Linked DNA regions of Homo sapiens: all the other regions are linked to region 2. The links come from fine-mapping of genetic effects on gene expression. A gene starts in region 2. Each other region holds a variant in brackets. All regions are shown on one strand. Distances are between the middles of the regions.

What was found. PIP is the estimated chance that this variant, and not a neighbour inherited with it, causes the effect.
Region 1: its variant is fine-mapped to the expression of RCE1 in prefrontal cortex (GTEx, PIP 0.92).
Region 3: its variant is fine-mapped to the expression of RCE1 in whole blood (TOPMed, PIP above 0.99).

The regions. Positions count from the first base shown.
Region 1 is chr11:66,879,804-66,887,979 of GRCh38, forward strand. All of the region lies in intron 3 of PC (pyruvate carboxylase), which reads right to left. Among named protein-coding and RNA genes, the nearest start is that of LRFN4, 27 kb to the left of the region's middle. RefSeq lists enhancers at 2,173-2,910, 2,911-3,648. The variant G/A (reference allele first, on the strand shown) is at 4,025.
Region 2 is chr11:66,838,786-66,846,961 of GRCh38, forward strand. It overlaps RCE1 (Ras converting CAAX endopeptidase 1), which reads left to right and starts at 4,656. Exons shown (of 8, transcript NM_005133.3): 1 at 4,656-4,855; 2 at 4,974-5,076; 3 at 5,171-5,254; 4 at 5,501-5,579; 5 at 6,084-6,251; 6 at 6,381-6,452; 7 at 6,715-6,777; 8 at 7,075-7,767. The coding sequence starts at 4,671. The coding sequence ends at 7,310. It overlaps TOP6BL (TOP6B like initiator of meiotic double strand breaks), which reads left to right. Exons shown (of 15, transcript NM_001302084.2): 14 at 4,064-4,284; 15 at 4,384-4,731. The coding sequence ends at 4,449. RefSeq lists silencers at 2,853-2,979, 4,197-4,336, 4,447-4,886 and an enhancer at 4,527-5,233.
Region 3 is chr11:66,797,905-66,806,080 of GRCh38, forward strand. TOP6BL (TOP6B like initiator of meiotic double strand breaks) reads left to right here. Exons shown (of 15, transcript NM_001302084.2): 5 at 2,737-2,792; 6 at 3,127-3,198; 7 at 6,091-6,286. Among named protein-coding and RNA genes, the nearest start is that of RCE1, 41 kb to the right of the region's middle. The variant G/T (reference allele first, on the strand shown) is at 4,134.

The sequences.
Region 1 (8,176 bases), 41 kb after region 2:
GGAGGGCAGGTTTCTGTGATGGATTTGGGATGTGCTGCCGAGTGAGGCGGAAGACACGGAAATGTTGGCCAGCAGGCAGTGTGGGGCTGGGGAAGGCTGTCAGGAGCTGCTGTGAATGACGGAGGGTGAGGGCTGCACTGCTCCTTAGAACCTAGTTATGGCCCTGAAACTAAGCTCACCGCTGTGGTCACACAAGACCCCCACCACCAACCTGTCTCTCCCTGACCCGCACACAATGCCAGGCACGGATGGGGCCCAACAGACATAAAGATGAACTGAAACACCACTGCATTCCCAGGGCGCCTGCACCCTTCCTAGAACTTGGTTAACCCAGTTTTTCCTTATCGAATGGCACTGCCTTCCCAGATCTGAAACCCAGGCCTTTCCAGAATCAACATCGGCTGGGAGAAACCGCACTGTAAGATGGGCGTGGCCCCCTCACACCACCCTCTCTCCAGGAAGCAGGGTCTTCAAGGTTATGGTGGAATAAGCCGACTCTGGGTATGCTGAGCTTGAGGGGTCTGGGATGGTTCAAAGGGAGGAGCTGGGTGGGCAGACTCCCCCTGCTCCCCAATACTAGACCATTCCCCAAAGCCGAAGGGAGCAGGGGCCTCTGCACAGCACTTGGGGTATAGAAGAAGGAACCCCTGCAGCTGGAGGCACCTATGGTGACCCTCGGAAGTGGCAGCAGAGGGTGGGAGACGGCCTTCCTGAGACCCCCAGAAGCCTTGCCTCTGGTATTAATGACACTCCCGGTCCTCAGGCTGTACGAAACCAAGCCCAGACACTGGAGTATGCCAGCCTTTCAACTCACAATGGCACATTCCCAGCAAGTGCCACCAGTCTGCAGCCCTTCTGGCTGGCACCATTCCAGGCACTTCCTGCCATCTTCACAGCACGGCACAGAATAGGCGATGGCCAGGCACAGGAAGCAGGGGGCAGCAATGGCTGGGGCCAGGCTCCCTCTGCGGTCCCATGCTGCAGTCCCATGCTGCAGTCCCATGCTGCACCCTGCTTTTGGGTATTTGGTTGGTGGATGGCAATCAAGAAGTTCTCAAGGTTGTCAAGTTTGGCTGAGAAGCTTCCCTGGAAATGCAGAGGGCTTTACTAACAGAACCCACAGAGCCGTTTCCTGCTCCCTCGAGCTGAGCCGCAACTCTTCAAGGGAGGCTGCTAGAGCCCCAGGTGTGAAGGGCATTCTGGGATGCTGCCAGGGCCAGCAACCAGCTCAGGTTACAGTTACACGCCTCGGGGGATGCCACTGTCTTGCTTGCTCCTGGTGATACACACAAGCAAAGCTCTCCCTTTCTGACCTCAGAAATGGGGAAACAGTAGTGAGTGAGTGAGAGAAAAGCAACCACCATCACCCAAAGATCCTTCACCCTGTTTTCCTCTCCAGAGAGCTGACAGCCCAGAGACCCACTTGCTATTTTCTGCAAATGCCAGCTGACAGATCCCTTTTCTTGGCCTCGGGTTGTGCATAAGAGACCAAGAAATAAGACAGCTTTGACTGTCACTTGGGACGTGTAAATAACTCCTTGCAAGCAAGAATGAGCCACAGTGAAGCCAGTAGTGTGTGGGGCACCTGCTTCCTCCCCTGCTGCCTCTCGGGTGACTCCACAGCTTCCATTTCCCTCCCAGCTTCAGCTTCAGATCAATAACTCAGCATTCCCCTTCCAGAAGGGAGTCAGGAAGGCACCTACGACGACCTGCAGGCTGAGGCAGGGCGAGGGCCTGGCCGTCACCTGCCCCGCTCCTGACAGAGCTGCCGCTTCCATAGCACACAACACATACTCACTGAGCTCCACCTGGTGCCCGGCCAGTGCCAGTGGAGGAGGGCACAATGGTGGGCAGTGACCCCAGCAGAGCCTTGCTCCTTGCCAGGCAGGGGCCACTGTGGCTCTTCACGCAGACTCACTCAGTAACCCTCACAGCCCCTCATCACCTCCCTGTACAGGTAAGGGACCAGGTGCAGTGGGATTAAGTGACACACCCAGGCCACCAGCAGAGCCGGCCTGGAGCCCGCTTCATATGGCCCCCTCCAGAGCAGGAGCTCGGACCCATCAGAGTTGGCCTATGGACTCTTCACTCAACTAAAGGAGTAAGTCACGGCTTTCATCAGGAGCACAGTGTGACAGGCACTTGGAAACCAAAATACCAAAACCAAAAACCCCACTTCTGATAAAACTGTCACTGGCCTGGCCTCCAGCAGGGCCACCAGTGGCACTCAGAGCTTCCCAACGAGAGCTGACGAACAATGTCAGCAGTCACATGTCCCAGATAAGCCAAGGCAGTTTCAATTTGTCTAATAAATCATCAAAATGTCCCTGAAATCCCACTACTTCAGACCTGAACTACATCTCCCAGGATGCCTCTTGCAACCAGAAGGAGCACAGAATCCTGCTGTCAGGCCATCATCCCCCAAGTTTTGTTCCAGACAACAACGTGGCCCCAGTGCTCAGCAGCCTTTCTGGGGACCAGGGCAGGGCGCCACCTAAGAGCTGCTGCAGCTGAGGCCCCACATCGCTTCGTCCTACATATTCCTGTCCTCACAGAGCGTCTCCTGCAGCCTCAGAGGGCAGCAGTGGGCAAGAGGCCGCAGAGGAAGGGAAAGACCAGGCCCTGCTTCAGGGGCGGGTGGCCAGCAAGTTGGTTCTGAAAGCCCAGCAGAGCACCTGGGTCCCTCAGCAAATCCTCAGAGGTGTGCTGGAGAGCAGCAGAGGGCAGAGAAGAAAGAAGTGTGGTTCAGAAACAGGCCCCAGGAACCTCCGAACCAACAAAGCTCCACACACCTACTTCCTATGGGCCCAGCTGCCCCCAGCACCAGCACCCGCACCAGGCTGTGCCCCTAGCCCCAGCTGGGCTCCACAGCTGCCAGTGAAAGCAGGTCAGAACCAGAAAGAAAGAGCTCTTGGCAGAGCACTCGGGGCTGCGGCGGTGGCAGCTCTGACGGATGGGGCCGCTCTCCCCAGGCGGCTCTGCTCTAAACATGTCCGACGGGCCCCAGGGCTGGCAGCCAAGAGGGACAGATGAAAGAACGACTCCACCTGGCTCTCAGGGCTGCCACGGCTGATATCAAAGCACCCAAGAGAGGACAGACTGAGGCTGAGATTTCTGGGCAGGGGGGGCAGAAGGGAGGACGCTGGAAACAATGCAGGTGACAGACACAGAAGACAGGAGAGAGACAATACCAAAGACGGAAACAGACACAGCACGGGTGCTCGCCGAGGCTCAGCTGTCCGGGCTCTGGGCCCCCAGGAGCGCCGGCTGCTCCAAGTGGCACTGCGGCGACGAACAGCAGTGAACAGTGCCAGCAGGGCTCCTCATCGCCCTGGCAACCCTCTATTCAAAGGAGCAGCCGAGGGGGAAAGGGTGGCACCGAGGCGACTGGCGCCATGGTCTCGGGACTTGTGGACTGGGGGACAAAGGGGGTCTCAGAGAAAGCAGAGTGAGGGGTCCCGAGGGCCTGCAGTGAGGTGGCTGCTCCATCCCAGCCTCACTGGAAAGCAGTGAGAATTTCAGGGCCAACACTGCCCCCTGGCGCACGAGGAGCCAGCTTCCTGCCGACCCTGCAGCACGGGGTGTGGGCAGGGCTCACATGGGAAGGTCACTTGTCCCCATTCCTCCACATCCTATAGGAGTAGGCTCAGGAATGCCTTCCCTATATTCCCCGGGCAGCCACCTCCCTCAGCTCTGTCCTTGTCTGTGCCCCACCCATCGTCCTGCTCAGGGGGCTCTCCATGAGGTCTCCGTGGCGTCTGTGTCCTCAGCAAAGAGCATTTAATGTTATAAAGATTTGTTGACCCGTCTTGTCTCCTTTAATAGACACTGTTAGGGCCCTGGGCACAGGATCCCTGGTCTCTTTTGTCCCCACATCTCCCTGGCACTCTGTACAGTGCGTAAGACCAGAACTAAATAAATGTCTGAGGGAATGAATCAGTGAAGAAATACTTCAGGTCACAATGAGGTTGCAGAGTGGCATGAGGCTGTTAAGATTCACCGTGAGGCGTGGTGGCTCATGCTT[G/A]TAATCTCAGCACTTTAAGAGGCCGAGGCAGGGGTATCACTTGAGTCTAGGAGTTTGAGATCAGCTTGGGCAACATATTGAGATCCTGTCTCTGCCAAAAAATTAAAAAAAAAACTTTTTAAAATTAGCTGGGTGTGGCCTGGCACGTGGCTCACACTTGTAATCCCAGCACTTTGGGAGGCTGAAGCGGGTGGATCACCTAAGGTTGGGAGTTCAAGACCAGCCTGACCAACATGCAGAAACCCCATCTCTACTAAAAATACAAAATTAGCCGGGCATGGTGGCACACGCCTGTAATCCCAGCTACTTGGGAGGCTGAGGCAGGAAAATCGCTTGAACGTGGGAGGCAGAGGTTGCGGTGGGCTGAGATCGTGCTATTGCACTCCAGCCTGGGCAACAAGAGCAAAACTCCATCTCAAAAAAAAAAAAAAAAAATTAGCTGGGCATGGTGGTGCCCATAGATAGTCTCAGCTGCTTGGAAGCCTGAGGCAGAAGGATTGCTTGAACCTAGAAGGTTGAAGCTGCAGTGAGCCATGATGGTCCCAGTGCACTCCAGCCTGGGCAACAGAGCAAGACTCTGTCTCAAAAAATAATTAATCAATTAGTTAAAAAAAAAGATTTACCTAGAAATATTATGGAGCATTCAGATAAAGATTAGTAAGGCTTGGCCCCTCCTGGGAACAGCACACACACACTAGTGGGACACACAAATGTCCCATACATATTGATTAGAGCCCAAAGTGATGTTGACAGGACAGAGAGAGGGTCTGAAGGACAAGGTCAGCAAAAAGCACCTCCCAGACTAATGCAGAGCGTGCCTGTGCCCCCCACACCCATATGTTGAAACCTTGATCTTGGACTTCCAGCCTCCATAACTGTGAGAAATAAATGTCTGTTGTTTAAAAGCCACCCAGCCTGTGGTATTTTGTCACTAAAGCCCAAAAGGACTCAGACGCAGCCTGGCAATGGGAACCAGGGAAGCTGAGTTTCAGGGCTGCGAGGGGCGACAGAGGCTAGGGGCACCAAAGACTCAATTCTAAACAGAACTGGACAATCTTTGCAGGGAGGAAGATGCCAGGACCCAGCAGACACTTGCAGGTGGCCCAGGACATTTCCCGACCCTCTTCAGGCCACCCCACCCCTGCTGGAGAGCTTCACAGGACCTGCTCCCCACTCAATTCCCCTCGTTCCAAGATGACAGGACATGAATGCTGGCTGGATTAGAGAGGGCCTCCCAGAGGCCTTGGGGACTTCGGGACCTGTCAAGCTCAGGACAAGCGGGTGTCACCCGGTGTTAGAGGTTGAATTGTGTCCCCCACCAAAAAAGATACACTGAAGTCCTAACCCCTAGCACCTAGGTCAGAATGTGACCTTATTTGGGCCAGGCGCGATGGCTCACGCCTGTAATCCCAGCACTTTCGGAGGCTGAAGTGGGCTGATCACCTGAGGTCAGGAGTTCAAGACTAGCCTGGCCAACAAGGCGAAACCCATCTCTACCAAAAAATACAAAAAATTAGCCAGGTGTGGTGGTGGCTGCCTATAATCCCAGCTACTCGGGAAGCTGAGACAGGAGAATTTGCTTGAACCCGGGAGGCAGAGGTTGCAGTGAGCCGAGATGGCGCCATTGCACTCCAGCCTGGGCAACAGTGAGACTCTGTCTAAAAAAAAAAAAAAAAAAAAGTGACCTTATTTGGAAATAGGGTAATCAAGTAAAAATAAAGTCATTAGGGTGGCCCTAATCCAATATGCTTAGTGTCCTTATAAAAAGGGGGAAATCTGGACACAGACACACACAGAATGAAGATGTGAAGACACAGGAGATGACGGCCACATGACTGGAGTGAGGCAGCTACAAGTCAGGCAAGGCCAAGGACTGCTGGCAAACACCAGAAGCTGGCAGTGGCCAGGCAGGACCCTCCCAGAGCCATCCGAGAGAGCACGGCCCTGCTCACACCTTGAATTGGGGTTTCTGGCCTCCAGATGTGAGGCAAGAAGTCACCGTTGTTTTCACCCAGCTTTTGGCACCCTGTGATGGCAGCTGTAGGAATCTAATACACCCAGGTTGCCTACAAATAACCAGATCCTATACAGATCCTAACACCAGGGGCTGGAGAAGCACAATGATGGTAAAAATACCCCCCTCTCATCCGCACATCCTGATGCAGGCCACAGCGGTGGCTTTCAGAGCATGTCGCTATTTGGGACTGTGATCAGCTGGCTGGGGCAGGCTGAGTGAGAGGCAGCAGAGATGAGAAGTGAAGGATGATGAGGCGGGCCACGCCTGCGTGGAGAGCAGGGCAGAGTTAGCAAGATGGCCTGAAGGAAAGACTCCAGGGTGGGAGGAGGAAGGGACGTCCAGAGGGAGAAGAGGGGAGGGAGGGGGGCAGGCAGAGGAGGGGAGGAGGTCCAGGTGCTGGGGCGGCTGGAGCAAAGGCAGATAAGGCAGGAAGCAAACAGCCTGGCGTGGCCCGCTGAGGCAGGGAGTGCAGGCAGGGAGAGGAGCCTAAGGGCTGAGCCTGAGACTCAGTCCAGAGCTAGTGGGCCCCACCAGCAGCTTGGGCAGTGTCCTCTATGTCGGGATGCTATGGAAATACCAGGCAGCAGGGAGACAGATTTGCAACTGAGAGCTCAGGACCACTGTGGCAGCTCTGGGGAAGCTGGATTTGAGAAGGAAAGATGAGAAGTAGAAGGTCAGCTAGGAAGATGTTCTAATGTGGGCAAGAGACAATGAGGACCTGAACCACGGTGGTGGGAATAGGAATGAAGAGGGACTGTGCCAAGAAATACTTAGGAGGTGGCATCAACAGCACCCATTAGATGGGAGGCAGAGAGGCAGCAGGGAAGGGTGGCCCTGGGTTTTAAGGTGAACGATGGCAACACCAAATTAAAGAACGCGAAGCCAATGTGGGTAGAAACAGTGACTCAGCTTTGAACCTGAAGAGTATCCGGCTGGAAAGAACAGACAGCTAGACAGTGAGTCTCCTGTGTAAAGAGTTCTGAGCTGCAGAGACCTGGGAGTCATCCCAGCCCGCTCCAGAGACGAAGGCAGGAAGGCACGCTGCTAGGATGTGTCAGTGCCACGGTGCACGCCCCTGGCTTCAGAACCTAGGGTCCTGCCTTTGACCACTGTGCCACAGCGTCTTTCCCAAGATACAAGGCTCCAGCCCCGGCCATCAGGGCTGGCCCAGGAGGTGAGGCATCACATGGCTGTTGGGGAATGTGTGGAAGGTCCTCTCGGCTCCACAGAGTGCTTACTGGGCTCTTTTCCAGGCAGCGAACTGGAAGCTTCCGTTCCAGGAACCAGGAGTCCTGCAGCTACTGGTATGCAGTGGGCTCCCCAGGGAGCCCAGTCTCATCTCCCAGCGAGAGGACCAGGGGCCACCAAGCTCCACCCCAACCCAGACTTGCCAATGGGTGTTGGTGTCTCATTTTTCAGTGTGAACGGTCAGCGAACCACCACCAGATATTTGAGGAAATGACCAAAAAATTCACCAAAACAAATTGGGATTTTTAAAAAACAGGAACATTGAGGAGAAAAGTAATATAGAGAACAGATACTCAGAAAAACTATAATTTATCTCCTCAGAGAAACAAGAAAAGCTATTGCATCCATTAAGTAAGAGGCGGCAGCTATTTTAAAAAGGCAACAAGAAAGAGCTCTAGGAAATTAAAAATAGAGTTGCAAAATTTTTAAACATAATAAATAGAGAATTAGAAGATAGTTTGGGACATTACCCAGAAAGACTAACATATGGAAAATAGGAGAAAAGATAAGAAAATAAGAGACTCAGTCCAGCAAGTCCAGCATCCAGCTGCCTGGGACTCCCGGAAGGGGAGACGAGAGAGCCAGGGGCAGGGGAATCCTGCTGGAAAGTCTCCCGGGACTGAAGGACGCGTATCCATGTGGAAAGGTCTTGGAGCGCCTGGAGTGATGCCAAAAGTCCCACTCAGAAGAAAGATCAGTTTGGGATGCCAAAAGAGACCTCCCACTCTCTTTCAGTTTGGGAGGTCAAAAATCCAACATCACTTTCACAGGCCGAAACCAAGTGAGGGCAGGGCTGCGCCCCTCCGAGGGCCTGCAACGAATCCCTCCCGAGTCTTTTCCAGCCTCTATGGCTGCCGGGCTCCTTTGCTCGTGGCCACATCACTCCC
Region 2 (8,176 bases):
CAGTGGCGCCATCTCGGCTCACTGCAAGCTCCGCCTCCCGGGTTCACACCATTCTCCTGCCTCAGCCTCCCGAGTAGCTGGGACCACAGGCGCCCGCCATCACGCCCGGCTAAATTTTTGTATTTTTAGTAGAGACGGGGTTTCACCGTGTTAGCCAGGATGGTCTCGATCTCCTGACCTTGTGATCCGCCTGCCTTGGCCTCCCAAAGTGCTGGGATTACAGGCGTGAGCCACCGCGCCCGGCCTGGCACCATGTCACTCTTAATGTGTGTTATGGGAAAGTGTCAGTGCGTGGGTTGTGATTGCAATTATACTGAAGTCTTTTCTCCATACATGTCTCCTGCAGTGCTTAAACAGCCTTCCCAGCCCACAGCAGCAGGGGTACAGCAGCTCTCACATTCAGTCACTAGCAGAGATGCCAGGTACTATTCTGAGCTTTTAAAATGTACTAATGCTCTTAGTTCTCAAAACTATCCTAGGAGCTATAGGTACTGTTATTAACTCTCATTTTGCATATGAGGAAATTGAGGCCCACAGATATCAATAAACTTACCCAAGGCTACACAGCCAGTAAATGACAGAGCAAGAATTCAAACCCAGGCAGCCTAGCTCTGCTGTCTCTGGAAGAGCCGAATTAGCAGGGATGCCCTCCTACAGATCCTGAGTCCTTCAGATAAAACAGTATCTGGGTCAAGGGAAGCTGGGGATCGTGACGTCAGCACCTATGCTTGGTTGGTAAATCCCTCTTTCTAGGGTCACAACCACAACACATACGCGTTTATGCTTAGGCCTAAGATGTGTCCCTGAAATCACTGTCAACTGAACCATGTTTTAAATGTTGTGGGGGCTGTTGCTACTGAAAAGAACCCTGCTGTGAACGCTTGTACAAAGCAAAGAATCTATTTTTATAAATTTAGATCTGGAGATTTTAAAAAATGCAAATATGATACATACAATTCAGTATTTATGCAGTCAGAAGAGACAAAGGAATAAGTATCTTCCCATACAAGGAAAAAAATTAACATTTAATTCAGTACCTTCTGTGGACCCTGGGGAGATGCTGGGGTCTTCCACAGCCTTATCTCATTTAGTCTTTACAGTGCCCTTCTGGGGGCAGGGGGAGGCATGGATCCTAACAAACTAGAGGACCCAGGCTCAGGTGAGGCAGAACGCTTAGCAGGAGGTAATGACTTTCAGTTTGCCGCCTCCAAAGCCCATGTTTTCTCCAGTGTGCAACATGAGCTTTAAAATCTAGGTGTTTATAATCTGGTGGAACCCCTGGAGGATGGCTTGGGCTGTTCTGTCCTACAGACCTGTGGCTCTCAGCATCCATTCTACGCCTCACATGGGCAGCCCTGCTGAAGAAAATCACCAAACTGTGTGTTGATGCCACCATCCATTGGTGGTCCACTCACTCAGGAGCCTTTGGTTTGTCAGTCCTTCCCCCTGCCTTTCTGGCCTTTGTCCCTCAGTGGCTACTCCATTCTTTAAAAAATCTACCCAGTCTCTGCCTCCTGCTTCATACTTACGGATCTCTTTTCTCAGTAAACTCACCCAACTTGCACCCTCCCACTGCAGAACCTCATCAGTGTGGGGACCCATTTCCTCCAGGCTCACAGTGGGATCGTCCCTTCTGCTTTCTTGGGACCTGCTTGCATCAGTTATCACTGCTGCACCTTCAGCCTTCCCCTGAGTTCCTTTCCCTCAGCAGGTCAAGCTCTCATTTCATCAGAAGAAAATCTCCCGTGACCTTGAACTTCCTCCACTTATCCTCAACCTCTCTCCCTCACATCTCAGCCAAGGATCTCAAAACCACAAGCTGCATGCACCCTGTCTCCCTTTCTTCCTCTCATTCTCTCCCTCACTTAGGGTACTTGCTTTTTCTGTGGCCTCTGAAACTTCTCTCCTCAGGGAAGGCCTCTTAATTACCAAATTTTGCATTTACCTTCATTGTATCTGAACTATGTGCAAAATTTGGCACTGTAAGGCTATGACTCGCCTGGTTTTTCCCTCCCTGGGCTTTTCTCTTCATCTACTTTCCTCTGGTCATGCCTAAATAGTGCTCATCCTGCTCTCCCACCCAGCTATCTTCCATCCCAACTGTTGACCACTGCCTCTGGGCTCAAGACTCTCAAATTGGTATGACCAGCCAAGGCCTCTGCTGAGTGCCAGCTGGGAGATTCATTTGCTCACTAGGCAGCTCCTCGTGGAGGTCCCATTGGTACCTCAGTTTCCTCTCTCCTGACTAAAGAGACTTTTAGTCTGTTTCATGATTAATCCAATTTATCACATCTGAAATCTTGGATTCATTCAAGAGGCCTCTCATTTTTTTTTTTTTTTTTTTTTTTTGAGACAGAGTCTCCCTCTGTTGCCCAGACTGGAGTGCAGTGGCGTGATCTCGGCTCACTGCAACCTCCCTGCCTCCCAAGTTCAAGTGATTCTCTTGCCTCAGCCTCTGAGTAGTTGGGATTACAGGCGCCCACCACCATGCCCAGCTAATTTTTGTATTTTTAGTAGAGACGGGGTTTCACCATGTTGGCCAAGCTGGTCTCAATCTCCTGACCTCGTGATCTGCCCGCCTCGGCCCCCCAAAGTGCTGGGATTACAGGCATGAGCCACCGCGCCCGGCCAAGAGGCCTCTCCCACATCCAGGCGCTCACAAAGGCCTATCACTTAGGCCTGATGAACACTTCTGATTCCTGGTGACGCCTCTATCTCCACTGTCTTTACTTGTTATTGGGCTCTTAAGGTCTTCCTGTCTCTAGTTTGATCTAAGCCACACCTTTGAAAGAACGATCTTTCTGAAGTACAAAATTACCAATATATTTCACCAGTGCTTAAAACTCTTTATTGGCTTCCTGTCTTCTACAGATGAAAATCTGTTTCTAGCCAGGCAAGGTGGTGTGTGCCTTTAGTCCCAGTTACTCGAGAGGATGAGGCCGGGAGTTCAAAGCTGCAGTGAGCTACAATCACGCCACTGCACTCCAGCCTAGGTGACAGGCGAGACCTCATCTTTAAAAAGTAAAAATTTACATAGGAAGTTGTTTTATGCCTTTGCATAAGGTTTGTGTTAACTTTCAGCAAGAAATTCCCTTTCTCTCCCTTGTCTGGCATATCACTCTTCATCCTTCAAAACCCAGCTCTGGGGCAGGAGTGGTGACTTATGCCTGTAATACCGTCACTTTGGGGAGCTGGGGCGGGAGGACAGCTTGAGACTAGCCTGGGCAACACGGTGAGACCCCTGTCTCTACAAGTAAAAAAAATTAGCCGGTGTGGTGGCATGCGCCTGTGGTTCCTGGTACTCTGGAAGCTGAAGCTGAGGCAGTAGGATCGCTTGAGCCCAGGAGGTCGAGGCTGCAGTGAGCCAGGACTGAGCCACTGCACTCCAGCCTGGGCAACAGAGCAAGACCTTGTCTCAAAAAAACAAAAGGTCAGCTCAGGTATCTCCTCATGGAAACCCTTCTTCACATCCAGAGGTGGTCGGCTTCCTTCTCTATTCTAACCCTGGGCTTTGTACACAGGTCTGCATCCCCTCCTAGCATCTGTGAGCTTCTCTCAGGGAAAAGCTCATTGATCTGCATCCCCAAGACCTGCTGGGGAAGAATCTATCCATCTAAACTCGCTTTAATTTGACAAATGAATCAGTTAAGAGTAGGAAAGCTGCCTATGGGCACTGCTCAATGCAACGTGAGCAACAAAGGGAGACAGAACTGAGGCCAGAAAGGTGAGGGGGGACAGAGGCTGGCAGGGAGGGGAGCTTGTCAGTGCAGACTCCAGGAAGAATCTATACAGAAAGTTACTGAGCGGCCTGAGTCCCCCAAGTGAGGGCTCGGGACAATCTCCCGCCTGGGTGAGAGAATAGGGAGACCCTGAAACGTCTCTGCAGCCTCGGGCTGCTCCAGAAGCGCCCACAGCTGCAGGGTTTTGGTGTGGATGGGACCTGCTGACAGGGATGCGGTGGGAAGAGCCCCTCGGCGCCCGTTCTCCCAGGCTTCCCCTTGGCCAAGGGTGCTCCTAGCACAGGGCCATGAAAGTAAGATGAAGAGGCTTGTTTTTCTCCTAGATACCAGCGGGCAAGCAGAAAACAAGAGGCTCAAGAGGGGCAGCCCCCGCATAGAGGAGATGCGAGCTCTGCGCTCTGCCAGGGCCCCGAGCCCGTCAGAGGCCGCCCCGCGCCGCCCGGAAGCCACCGCGGCCCCCCTCACTCCTAGAGGAAGGGAGCACCGCGAGGCTCACGGCAGGGCCCTGGCGCCGGGCAGGGCGAGCCTCGGAAGCCGCCTGGAGGTAACTGGGCGAGGGCCGCGCAGGGAAGGGCTCAGCAGGAGGTGCAGGCCACGGGCCGCTGCTGAGAGGTCCTCACCCCGGGCCCCCTTGTTCCCGCAGGACGTGCTGTGGCTGCAGGAGGTCTCCAACCTGTCAGAGTGGCTGAGTCCCAGCCCTGGGCCCTGAGCCGGGTCCCCTTCCGCAAGCGCCCACCGATCCGGAGGCTGCGGGCAGCCGTTATCCCGTGGTTTAATAAAGCTGCCGCGCGCTCACCAAGTCCTCTTCCGCGTCTGCTTCCGCGTCGGGCCCGGGCGGGGCGGGGCGGGGCGTGGAGCCGCGCCGCGGCCTGACGTCACCCACACCTCCCTGGGACTGCGTCACTGGTGCGCGCCGCGGGTCAGGGCGCAATGGCGGCGCTGGGCGGGGATGGGCTGCGACTGCTGTCGGTGTCGCGGCCGGAGCGGCCGCCCGAGTCGGCGGCGCTGGGCGGCCTGGGCCCCGGGCTGTGCTGCTGGGTGTCAGTGTTCTCCTGCCTCAGCCTCGCCTGCTCCTACGTGGGCAGCCTCTACGTCTGGAAGAGCGAACTGCCCAGGTGCGGGGGCTGCGCGCGACCGGAATCCGCGCCCTGCGGGCGGAGCTTGGGCGAGCCGGGGGCGGGTCCGTGCTCATGGGCAGCCGCGGGCCCCCTGAACTTACTGTCCCCTCCGTAGGGACCATCCCGCGGTCATCAAGCGACGCTTCACCAGCGTCCTGGTGGTGTCCAGTCTCTCACCCCTGTGCGTGCTGCTCTGGAGGGAACTCACAGGCATCCAGGTGCGAAGGAGGCGGGGCAAAGGGCAACGGCGGTGAGAGCTCAGGGGTCTTTAGGGGAGGAAGCAAAACTGATGCCCCCTTTCCTGTGGCTCAGCCAGGCACATCCCTGCTCACCCTGATGGGCTTCAGGCTGGAGGGCATTTTCCCAGCGGCGCTGCTGCCCCTGTTGCTGACCATGGTGAGTGCTCCTGCTGTATTTTTTCTTCTGGTCTTTGTTATCAGCCTGATGGGCAGTGCCGTGGACTCTTGTTTTTGGTTTTTGGTTGATGGGAGACAGGACTTTTGAGATGGCCCCAGGGTCCTCCGGTATGCATGGTCTGGAAATCGTGGCTGGAGAGGATTTCAAGCTTGGAGTCTCAGGGAGCATGGGCAAAGGTCTGGGCAAAAGCGGTGGGTTATGGTGAAAGTGTTTTCTTGCCCTCAGATTCTTTTCCTGGGCCCACTGATGCAGCTCTCTATGGATTGCCCTTGTGACCTGGCAGATGGGCTGAAGGTTGTCCTGGGTGAGTCTTAAAGGCTGAAGGGAAAAGTAGGCACAGGCAGTCCAGGACATTGGGGCAGGGAGTCAGCGGGCTCAGGGTGTGATCTGGACACGTGAAATGTCATCTCTCTGGGTGTGTTTTCTCATCAGTAAAATGGAAACATAGAGCTAGGTGGCCTCTAAGGGTTGATTGCCAACGTCCAAGGAGTTCCCTGGGAACCCCCAGCAGTATTTGGTGTGGATCAGAGAGCACTGTCCCCTGCTTCCCCAACCAGAGCTAGTCTTGCTTAAATTTTGGTGTCTCCAGAGTTTACTTCCAGGATGCCCTTGCCTCAGCTAATGCCTTCCATTCAGGTCATCTCAAGACATTGGGTTTATGTTGGGTCCACACCCCCGTCCTCAGCAGTATTGATGCCTAACCTGAGTTTGGCCAGGGTAAAGTTGTGGGAGAGGAGCCCTTGGAGCCTCTGGGGTCTCACTGTCTGACAGCCCGTCACTCACAGCTTGTCCTGAATTCCCTCTGCAGCCCCCCGCTCCTGGGCCCGCTGCCTCACAGACATGCGTTGGCTGCGGAACCAAGTGATCGCCCCGCTGACAGAGGAGCTGGTGTTCCGGGCCTGTATGCTGCCCATGTTAGCACCGTGCATGGGCCTGGGCCCTGCTGTGTTCACCTGCCCGCTCTTTTTTGGAGTTGGTGAGTCTGGCCAGATTAGTCCTGGTGTGTTTTCAGCATGAGAGCTCAGAAGGGGGCTTGAGGTGAGGGGCAGTCCTAGAAGGGAGGCTGGGAGGAATGACTGTGATGTGATTGTCACCTTTTTCCCAGCCCATTTTCACCATATTATTGAGCAGCTGCGTTTCCGCCAGAGCAGCGTGGGGAACATCTTCTTGTCTGCTGGTGAGTCCTGGCTAGCTGGCCTGGGTTAGGGTGTATGATGATGTCGCTAATGGCCACTCTGGAGAAGGAATTGGGAACTGAGGGCCACAGTATTGGAGAGGCCACTGACCGTGGGAAGTTGGGGTGCAGGACAGCTGTAGGTGGTGGGGCAGGCAGCTACTGCCCCGGGGGGAGGGGATGGTCGGTCTTTGGCTGATGGGTATGTAGTGTGGGGGCAGGAAGGGCGTGCAGGTGTGGTCACTCGTGGCCTCCCCGTCTCCAGCGTTCCAGTTCTCCTACACAGCTGTCTTCGGTGCCTACACTGCTTTCCTCTTCATCCGCACAGGTTGGTCCTCAGTCCCTCATGGGTCCCTGGGGGCCCACAGGAGCGGGTGGGAGAATGGGAATACTGTTTGTTCTAGGAACAAAAGTTCTTCTACTCCAGTCCTTGAGACAGGCTGAGCCAGAGCCCTCAGCCTGGTGAGGTCTGAGAGGTGGAAAGGAGCAGAGGCCGTGGTGTGTGGGTGGATGGCTGGGGTAGTGGGATCTTGATCTCCTGTTTCAGGGGATGAGGGTCACTAGCCCTGGAAGGGCCAGAGGAGGTGGTAGGGCTGCTCCCTGAGCTGCTGTCTCTTTTCCCCAGGACACCTGATTGGGCCGGTTCTCTGCCATTCCTTCTGCAATTACATGGGTTTCCCAGCTGTTTGCGCGGCCTTGGAGCACCCACAGAGGCGGCCCCTGCTGGCAGGCTATGCCCTGGGTGTGGGACTCTTCCTGCTTCTGCTCCAGCCCCTCACGGACCCCAAGCTCTACGGCAGCCTTCCCCTTTGTGTGCTTTTGGAGCGGGCAGGGGACTCAGAGGCTCCCCTGTGCTCCTGACCTATGCTCCTGGATACGCTATGAACTCTCACCGGCTCCCCAGCCCTCCCCACCAAGGGGTACTGCAGGGGAAGGGCTGGCTGGGGTCCCCGAGATCTCAGGAATTTTTGTAGGGGATTGAAGCCAGAGCTAGTTGCGTCCCAGGGACCAAGAGAAAGAAGCAGATATCCAAAGGGTGCAGCCCCTTTTGAAAGGGGTGTTTACGAGCAGCTGTGAGTGAGGGGACAAGGGGCAGGTCCCAGGAGCCACACACTCCCTTCCTCACTTTGGACTGCTGCTTCTCTTAGCTCCTCTGCCTCTGAAAAGCTGCTCGGGGTTTTTTATTTATAAAACCTCTCCCCACCCCCCACCCCCCAACTTCCTGGGTTTTCTCATTGTCTTTTTGCATCAGTACTTTGTATTGGGATATTAAAGAGATTTAACTTGGGTAACATGGCCTTGGGCCTTTGGGAATCGGTCTATTTGGGATCTTGTGTGAAGACTCTAGGCAGCTCTTGGGAGTGTGCCCACCACCTGTCCCAGCTACCTTGAACACTGACATCTGGGCGGTGCATCCAGGCGGGTAGTTCCCTGGAGTACAGGATGGGCTGGGAGCTCTGGTTGCTGGGAGCCTGTGGCTTCCTCCTTCCTGAACCATGCCCCAAAGTCCTAGTGTGGTTGGCTCTGAGACTGCAGGTACCAGGTGTGAGCCCAGCTCATCCTGGGGCCTGTGCCTTGGCTGACGGGTCAGGGAGTGGGAACCATGGCCCTGGCCCTGACCTCAGCGATGGAGCCTCCGACGTATCTCCTCTGAGGGGAAGATGACTGGCCTGAAGCCTCTGCCAGGACCTCCACAGTCTGCCAGTCTTGTTTTTCACAAGAGGAAA
Region 3 (8,176 bases), 41 kb before region 2:
TGACATCCCCCTTCTGCCATCTTCCTACTTTTTGCCTATTGTTTCAGTCACTATTCTAAGTGCTCTTTGTGCACTCGCTCACTTAACTCTTACAACACCCCTTGTGAAGTAAGTTTTATCATCATCATCCGCATTTTGTAGCTGAGAAAACTATGGTACAGAGAGTAAATAACTTGAAGAGTCAGGATTTGAACTCAGGCAGTCTGGTTCTAGAGTCACTTCTTACCTTATGTTACACAGAAAGAAAAATATAGGTGAATGGAGAGAATAATTAGAACAGTGAGGTACACTGGAGAGGATATAAAAGTCAGATGGAGAAGAGGAAGAAAAAGCAAAGAAAAAAGCATGGAATGTTCCACATATGAAAATAATAGAAATAAAAATGGATAGTTCCTTTAAAAAGGAGGTGAAGGGGCTGGGTGTGGTGGCTCACACCTGTAATCCCAGCACTTTGGGAGGCCGACTTGGGCGGATTGCTTGAGCTCAGGAGTTCCAGACCAGCCTGGGCAAGATGGTGAAACTCTGTCTCTACTAAAAATACAAAAATTAGTCGGGTGTGGTTCCATGCACCTGTGGTCCCATCTACTTGAGGGGCTGAGGCAGGAGAATCGCTTGAACCCAGGAGGTTGAGGCTGCAGTGAACCGTGTTTACACCATTGCACTCCAGCTTAGGTGACAAAGTGACTCTGTCTCAAAAAAAAAAAAAAAAAAAAAAAAGTTAAGGGATAGGGGTTGAGAGAATGGCAAAGAGGCAGGGATGATTTCTGATAATTTGTGACAACCTGGAGCTGTGATATAGGGCTCAATATATTTAAGATTTAGAATTTAAACACAGGCAAGCATTAAGTATGTTTAGGGAAAATACAAGTGATAAAGAATGTATTTTTTGGCCGGGCGTGGTGGCTCACGCTTGTATCCTAGCACTTTGGGAGGCCGAGGTGGGTGGATCACAAGGTCAGGAGATTGAGACCATCCTGGCCAACATAGTGAAACCTTGTCTCTACTAAAAATACAAATATTGGCTGGGCACAGTGGCTCACGCCTGTAATCCCGGCACTTTGGGAGGCCGAGGTGGGCAGATCACCTGAGGTCAGGAGTTCGAGACCAGCCTGGCCAACATGGCGAAACCCCGTCTCTACTAAAAATACAAAAATTAGCCGGGCATGGTGGCGCACGCCTGTAATCCCAGCTACTCAGGAGGCTGAGGCAGGAGAATCACCTGAACCTGGGAAGTGGAGGTTGCAGTGAGCCGAGATTGTGTCATTGCACTCCAGCATGGGTGACAGAGCAAGACTCTGTCTCCAAAAAAAAAAAAAAAAAAAAATACAAATATTAGCTGGGCATGGTGGCGCGTGCCTGTAGTCCCAGCTACTCAGGAGGCTGAGGCAGGAGAACTGATTGAACCTGGGAGGTGGAGGTTGCGGTGAGCTGAGATTTTGCCACTGCACTCCAGGCTGGGAGACAGAGTGAGACTCCATTTCAAAAAAAAAAAAAAGAATGTCTTTTTCCTGGCTGAGCACGGTGGCTCATGCCTGTAATCCCAGCAGAAGTAAAACTTTGGGAAGCCGAGGTGGGTGGATCACTCACTTGGGTGGTCAGGAGTTCAAGACCAGCCTGGCCAACATGGCGAAACCCCATCTCTACTAAAAATACAAATATTAGCTGGGCACAGTGGCGCGTGCCTGTAGTCCCAGCTACTCGGGAGGCTGAGGCAGGAGAATTGCTTGAACCCAGGAGGCGGAGGTTGCAGTGAGCCGAGATTGCGCCATTGCACTCTGCACTCCAGCCTGGGCGACAGACTGAAACTCCGTCTCAAAAAAAAAAAAAGTCTTGTTTCTCTAGGTTCATCCGTGTCACAAATGACAGGATTTCCTTCTTTTTAAAGGCTGACTAGGCTGGGTATGATGGCTCATTCCTATAATCCTAGCACTTTGGGAGGCTGAGGCAGGAGGATCACTTGACCTTGGGAGTTCAAGACCAGCCTGGGCAATATGGTGAAACCCTGTCTCTACAAAAAAATGCAAAAAGTAGCTGGGTGTAGTGGCACATGCCTGTGGTCCCAACTACTCAGGAGGCTGGGGTGGGAGGATCACTTGAGCCTGGGAGACCAAGATCACACCACTGCACTCCAGGCTGGGCAACAGAGCAAGACCCTGTCTCAAAAAAAAAAAAAAACCACAAAAAACTAACTGTATTCCATTGTGTATATACCACATTTTCTTAATCAACAGAAAGACAAATACTGTATGATTTCACTTATATGTGGAATCTGAAAAAGTCAAACTCATAGTAGAGAATAGAATGGTGGTTACCAGAGGCTGGGAGTGGGTTAAGGAAGGAAATAGGGAGTTGTTAGTTAAAGTGTACAAAGTTTCAGTTAGACAGGAGGAATAAGTCTTTAGAATCTTATTTCACAGGGGGGTGACTATAGTCAATAATAATGTATTATATATTTCAAAATAGCTGAGAGTAAATTTCAAATGTCTTACCACAAAAAATGCTAGTAAGTTATGTGATAGATGTTAATCTACTTGATTTAATCATTCCACATTATATACATATATCAAAACACCACATTGTACCCTATGAATGTATACAGTTATAGTTTATCAATTAAAAGTAATGTTAATTTAAAATTTTTTAAGCTTATTCTTTTCCTTTAGGGATTAGATATGGAAGTTTTTAATCTGTATCTTGGCTCATGTTAAATCTCACACTTAACTTATTGTTTTGCAGGTCAGATTTCATTTCAGTGTAAAGGTAAATGGAATCCTCTCCACAGAGATCTTTGGGTAAGTTCTTAGGTCTATGGCTTAAGATGATGCTATGGCTCTGCAATTTTTCTCAGCTATTATTGTCCTATTTCCAAAAGGTTCACAGTTTGATATCTTGACCCAAAGTCACCTTGAAACTAATTTTCTGACACCCCCACATTTTATTATTTTAGTAGATTCATCCCTGTCTCTAGAGGGGGTAAACTTAAAGATTGCCATTTTCCCCTTGGTTAATTAGTTACTGAATTCTAGTAATCGCTGGGGTGGTAGTAGTCATGGGCCAAAATTTATGTCAAACAGAGATTGATTTTAGAATCTTTGAGAGATGGCTTAGCTTTGCTTTGCTTTGCAGGGTGGAGAATGAACCCACTTTGAACCTTGGGAATGGAATTGCTCTTTTGGTCGACTCCCAGCATTATGTGAGGTGAAGGCGTAAAGCCTTGTTGTCCCTCTGCATGTTTTACTCTCCTCTCGAGTACGAATGTGGGTAGAAATTGGAAATTGTCTCACTTGTCATTTGTAAGTGCCAGGTGTCAGCTTCTCTATAAGAAAAGCAGAAGTAAAACTTTTTTTTATGTTGAAAACTGCTATTTTAAGTTATTTATGTATTTGAATCTATTCTAAATGACCTGAAGACATGTGCCTTCTTCTCTTCAGGCCTTATTTTACACAGACCCTGCTAGTTCCAATCCCATTTAGGCATGAGAAGAGAAGACTATGAATTTAAAACTTTACTTGAATTCTTGGCTAGAGAGATAGTATGAATACAAAGGAATTCAGTGTACATTATTTTCTGTGCATCAGCATTTTGCATAGGTTTGGAAATCATCTCTCTGCCCATCTCCATCTTCTTCAGACTCCAAGAAAGTAAATCTGGCCAGGCGCAGTGGCTCATGCCTATAATCCCAGCACTTTGGGAGGCTGAAGTTGATGGATCACTTGAGGTTAAGAGTTTGAGACCAGCCTGGCCAACATGGCAAAACCCTGTCTCTGCTAAAAATACAAAAATTAGCTGGGCATGGTAGCACATGCCTGTAATCCCAGCTACTTGGGAGGCCAAAGCATGAGAATCACTTGAACCCAGGAGGTGGAGGTTGCAGTGAGCCGAGATCACGCCACTGCACTCCAGCGACAGAGCAAGACTCTGTCTCAAAAAAAATAAATAAATAAAAAATGTAAAAAATCCATGGAGGAGGTGGTAAACAATATGGAACACACAGAGCCCTTCTGTCTTGCCTTCCTGTGCCATTTAACTACCACAGAATCCAAAGTGAAAATGAATTATGTCAAGAAAAGACCTAACATATGCTTAAGTCCAATTAATTTATTTTTTCTTTTTTTGAGACAGGGTCTCAGTCT[G/T]TTCAACCCAGATGCCATCATAGCTCACTGCAGCCTTGGTCTCCTGGGCTCAAGTCATTTTCCCACCTCAGCCTCTCGAGTAGCTAGTAGCTAGGACCACAGAAATATGCTACCATACGCTGCTAATTTTTTTTTTTTTTGAGACGGAGTCTCGCTCTTTCGCCCAGGCTGGAGTGCAGATCTCACCTCACTGCAACCTCCACCTCCCTGGTTCAAGCGATTCTCCTGCCTCAATCTCCTGAGTAGCTGGGACTATAGGTGCATGCCACCACGCCCAGCTAATTTTTTTGTATTTTTAGTAGAAATGGGGTTTCACCATGTTGGCCAGGATGGTCTCAATCTCCTGACCTCGTGATCCTCCTGCCTCGGTCTCCCAAAGTGCTGAGATTACAGGCATGAGCCACTGCGCCCAGCCCATATACTGCTAATTTAAAAAAAATTTTTTTTTGTAGAGATGAGGTTGTTGCCTAGGCTGGTGTCAAACTCCTGGACTCAAGCAATCCTCCTGCCTCGGCCTTTCAAAGAGCTGGGATTACAGATGTGAGCCAATGTGTCCAGCCCTAATTTAGTCTTTATTCATTAGTTTCTGCCTCTATTTATGTGCCCAGAGGCAACACTAGTAGTCAAAGTCTCTTAAGGCTTAAAGAGACTGCCTGTGGTTCTTAGTCTGTTTTCTTATTCTCACCCAAAATTACACCTCAGATGAGAATATTTTTGTCATTTAATATGCAGGTAATAATTTCCCCACCCCATATCTTTCTTTAGTGATCCTCTAATAATAAACAATCCTTACAGGTAGCAGCTCATCATCATAGTTGTACTGACACAAGTTTAAGCCTTTGAGCCAATTTTTGTAGATGTGTTTCCTTGGATGACCTGATTAGAGACAAAGGGAAAGGTTCATTAATATTTCCTCTCTATTAATTAATTCATTCATTCTTAATCAGCTTTCTCAGGTTGACTGTTTTCTCTCTGTTTAGAAAAGAGCTATTGGAAAGTAACAAAATTTTACTAGATTCTTTCTAGGAGAGAAAGATGGCCTGGTTTTTTCTCATTGTTACTATCAAACAGCAACCTCAGACCTCTTCAGCGGAAGGTGTAGCATGCGTGAGAGCAGACTTATAAGTATCATGGGGCCAGTTTTAGGCCATTTGTGATTCATGGGCCCCCTCACACAATGCTGACCTTTGAATGAATTTGGAAATTTGCTCAGAACCAAAGATTAATTTTAGTGGAGGAAGTATACTTGAGAATAAGAAACAGGCTGGTCATGATATCTCACACCTGTAGTCCCAGCACTTTGGGAGGCCAAGGCAGAAAGATTGCTTGAGGCCAGGAGTTTGAGACCAGCCTAATAAACATAGTGAGACCCCATCTCTAATAAAATAAAATAATAGTAATTATTTTTCGAGACAAAGTCTCGCTCTGTTGCTCAGGCTGGAGTGCAGTGGCGCAATATCAGCTCACTGCAACCTCCGCTTCCCAGGTTCAAGCGATTCTCCTGCCTCAGCCTCCTGAATAGCTGGGATTACAGGTGTGCACCATCATGCACAGCTATTGTATCTTTAGTAGAGATGGAGTTTCACCATGTTGGCCAGGTTGGTCTTGAACTCCTGACCTCAAGTGATCCACCCACCTCAGCCTCCCAAAGTGCTGGGATTACAGGCATGAGCCACAATGCCTGGTCTAAAATGTTTTTTTAAAAAGAGAAACTAAGAAGCATCCGTTAGTGGCAGCAAAAGCAGGAGCAATGATATCTCTGAAATGCCAGTTTTTCTACTACTTCCATTGCTGTGATTCCCTGAGTGAGACATAAGTTATTTATTCCAACAAAACTGATATGGCAGGTTGTGTGGTTGTACATATGCTAGAGGTTACAAAAATAATTTTGAATGCTCTTTTAAATAATTTCTTAAGAGGAAAAAATGTTAAATTTGACTTGTCTGTTTTCTGACAGTAGACCAAATTTTGGTACAATTGAATCACACTGCAGCAGAATTCACCCTGTGCTAGGACATCCAGTAATGCTTTTCATCCCTGAAGACGTGGCTGGCATGGACTTGTTGGGAGAACTGATACTGACTCCAGCAGCTGCACTGTGCCCCAGCCCAAAGGTTTCTTCCAACCAGCTTAACAGGATTTCTTCAGTTTCCATATCCTTTTGATGAAAAGTTCCATCCAATTATCTTTGAAATGGGTTTTTATATCCCAGTTTTAGGAAAGCCTTTAGTATGTGAATTCTGCATCTACAAATATATATGATTTGTATAAAAACATATAATCTAATGTGAAAGCCAAGCTTGAAAATTTTGCCAGGGAACTGAAAACTGTAAAATGTGACACATGCCATGCGTTTTTCATACAATCCAATATGACTGAAGCATGAAATGAATGGTGCACGAGGAAGAGATGGGACTAGAAAAGTAGTCTGGAGTTGAATATGGTAGATCTTGAGTGCCATACTAAGGATTGTGAATTTTATTCTCTGTATAGTAAGAAACCATTGAATGTTTTGGGAGAAGTCTTTAGCAGCATTATAGAGTACGGATGGGAGACAGAAGTTAGTAATACTAAGTAAATAAGTAAGTGAACTGGATTAAAAATAATGAGTGCTTGACGGCTGGGTGCAGTGGCTTACACCTGTAATCCCAGCACTTTGGCAGGCCGAGGTGGGCGGATCACTTGAGGTCAGGGGTTTGAGACCAGCCTGGCCAATATGGTGAAACCCTGTCTACTAAAAATACAAAAATTAGGCCGGGCGTGGTGGCTCACACCTGTAATCCCAGCACTTTGGGAGGCTGAGGCGGATGGATCACAAGGTCAGGACTTGGAGACCAGCCTGGCCAACATGGTGAAACCCCATCTTAGTAAATACAAAAATTAGCTGGGCATGGTGGCAGGCGCCTGTAATCCCAGCTACTCAGGAGGCTGAGGCAGGATAATCACTTGAACCTGGGAGGCAAAGGTTGCAGTGAGCCGAGATCGCAGCCACTGCACTCCAGCGTGGGCAACAGAGTGAGATTCCGTCTCAAAAAAATAAATTAATTAAAGCCAGGCGTGGTGGTGTACGCCTATAGTCCCATCTACTTGGGAGGCTGAGGCAGGAGAATCACTTGAACCTGGGAGGTGGAGGCTGCAGTGAGCCAAGAACACGACACTGCACTCTAGCCTCGGTGACAGAGCAAGACTCTGCCTCAGAAAAAATAAAAATAAAATAACAATAATAATGAGTGCTTGAATCTAAAGTGTGGTAGGCACGGAAAGGCCAGACTTATCACCTGAATTAATCAACAAAATGTGGTAACCAGTTCATTATTAAGGTAGGGAGAGATTAGGGGCAGGGAATGTCTAAGGTTGATGTCAGATTTCTATTCTATGTCTGTCTAGAATAGGCAAATACAGAGAGAAAGTTGATGGAGGGGCTTTTTTGTTTTTTTTTTTGGAGACAAGGTCTGGCTCTGTTGCACAGGCCAGAGTGCGGTGACACAATCTCAGCTCACTGCAACCTCTGCTTCCCGGACTCAAACCATCCTCCCACCTCAGCCTCCTAGAGACCACAGGTGCATGCCACCATGCCCAGTTAATTTTTGCATTTTTGGTAGAGACAGAGTTTCACCATGTTGCCCAGGCTGGTCTCAAACTCCTGGACTCAAGCGATCCACCAGGCTCGGCCTCCCAAAGTTTTGGGATTACAGGCATAAGCCACTGTGCTCGGCCTGGAGGGGCTTCTTTTCAGAGTAATGAAAGTGTTCTAAAATTGATGGTGGTAGTGACTGCACAACTCTTTGAATATTCTAAAATCCATTTTATTACACATTTAAAATGAGTGAATTGTATGGTATGTGAATTGTATCTCAATAAAGCTATTTAAAAATATTTCCATGAATAACTGACAGAATAATGATACTTTCAGCAAGATAAAAAAACATTAATAGCAGATTTAGGAGATAAAGAAGATGAGTTTGACATTAAACATGTTGAGTTTATGGTGTCTCAAGACATCCTTTGAACATAGTAAGGAGCTATATAGGAATTTGGTCTGG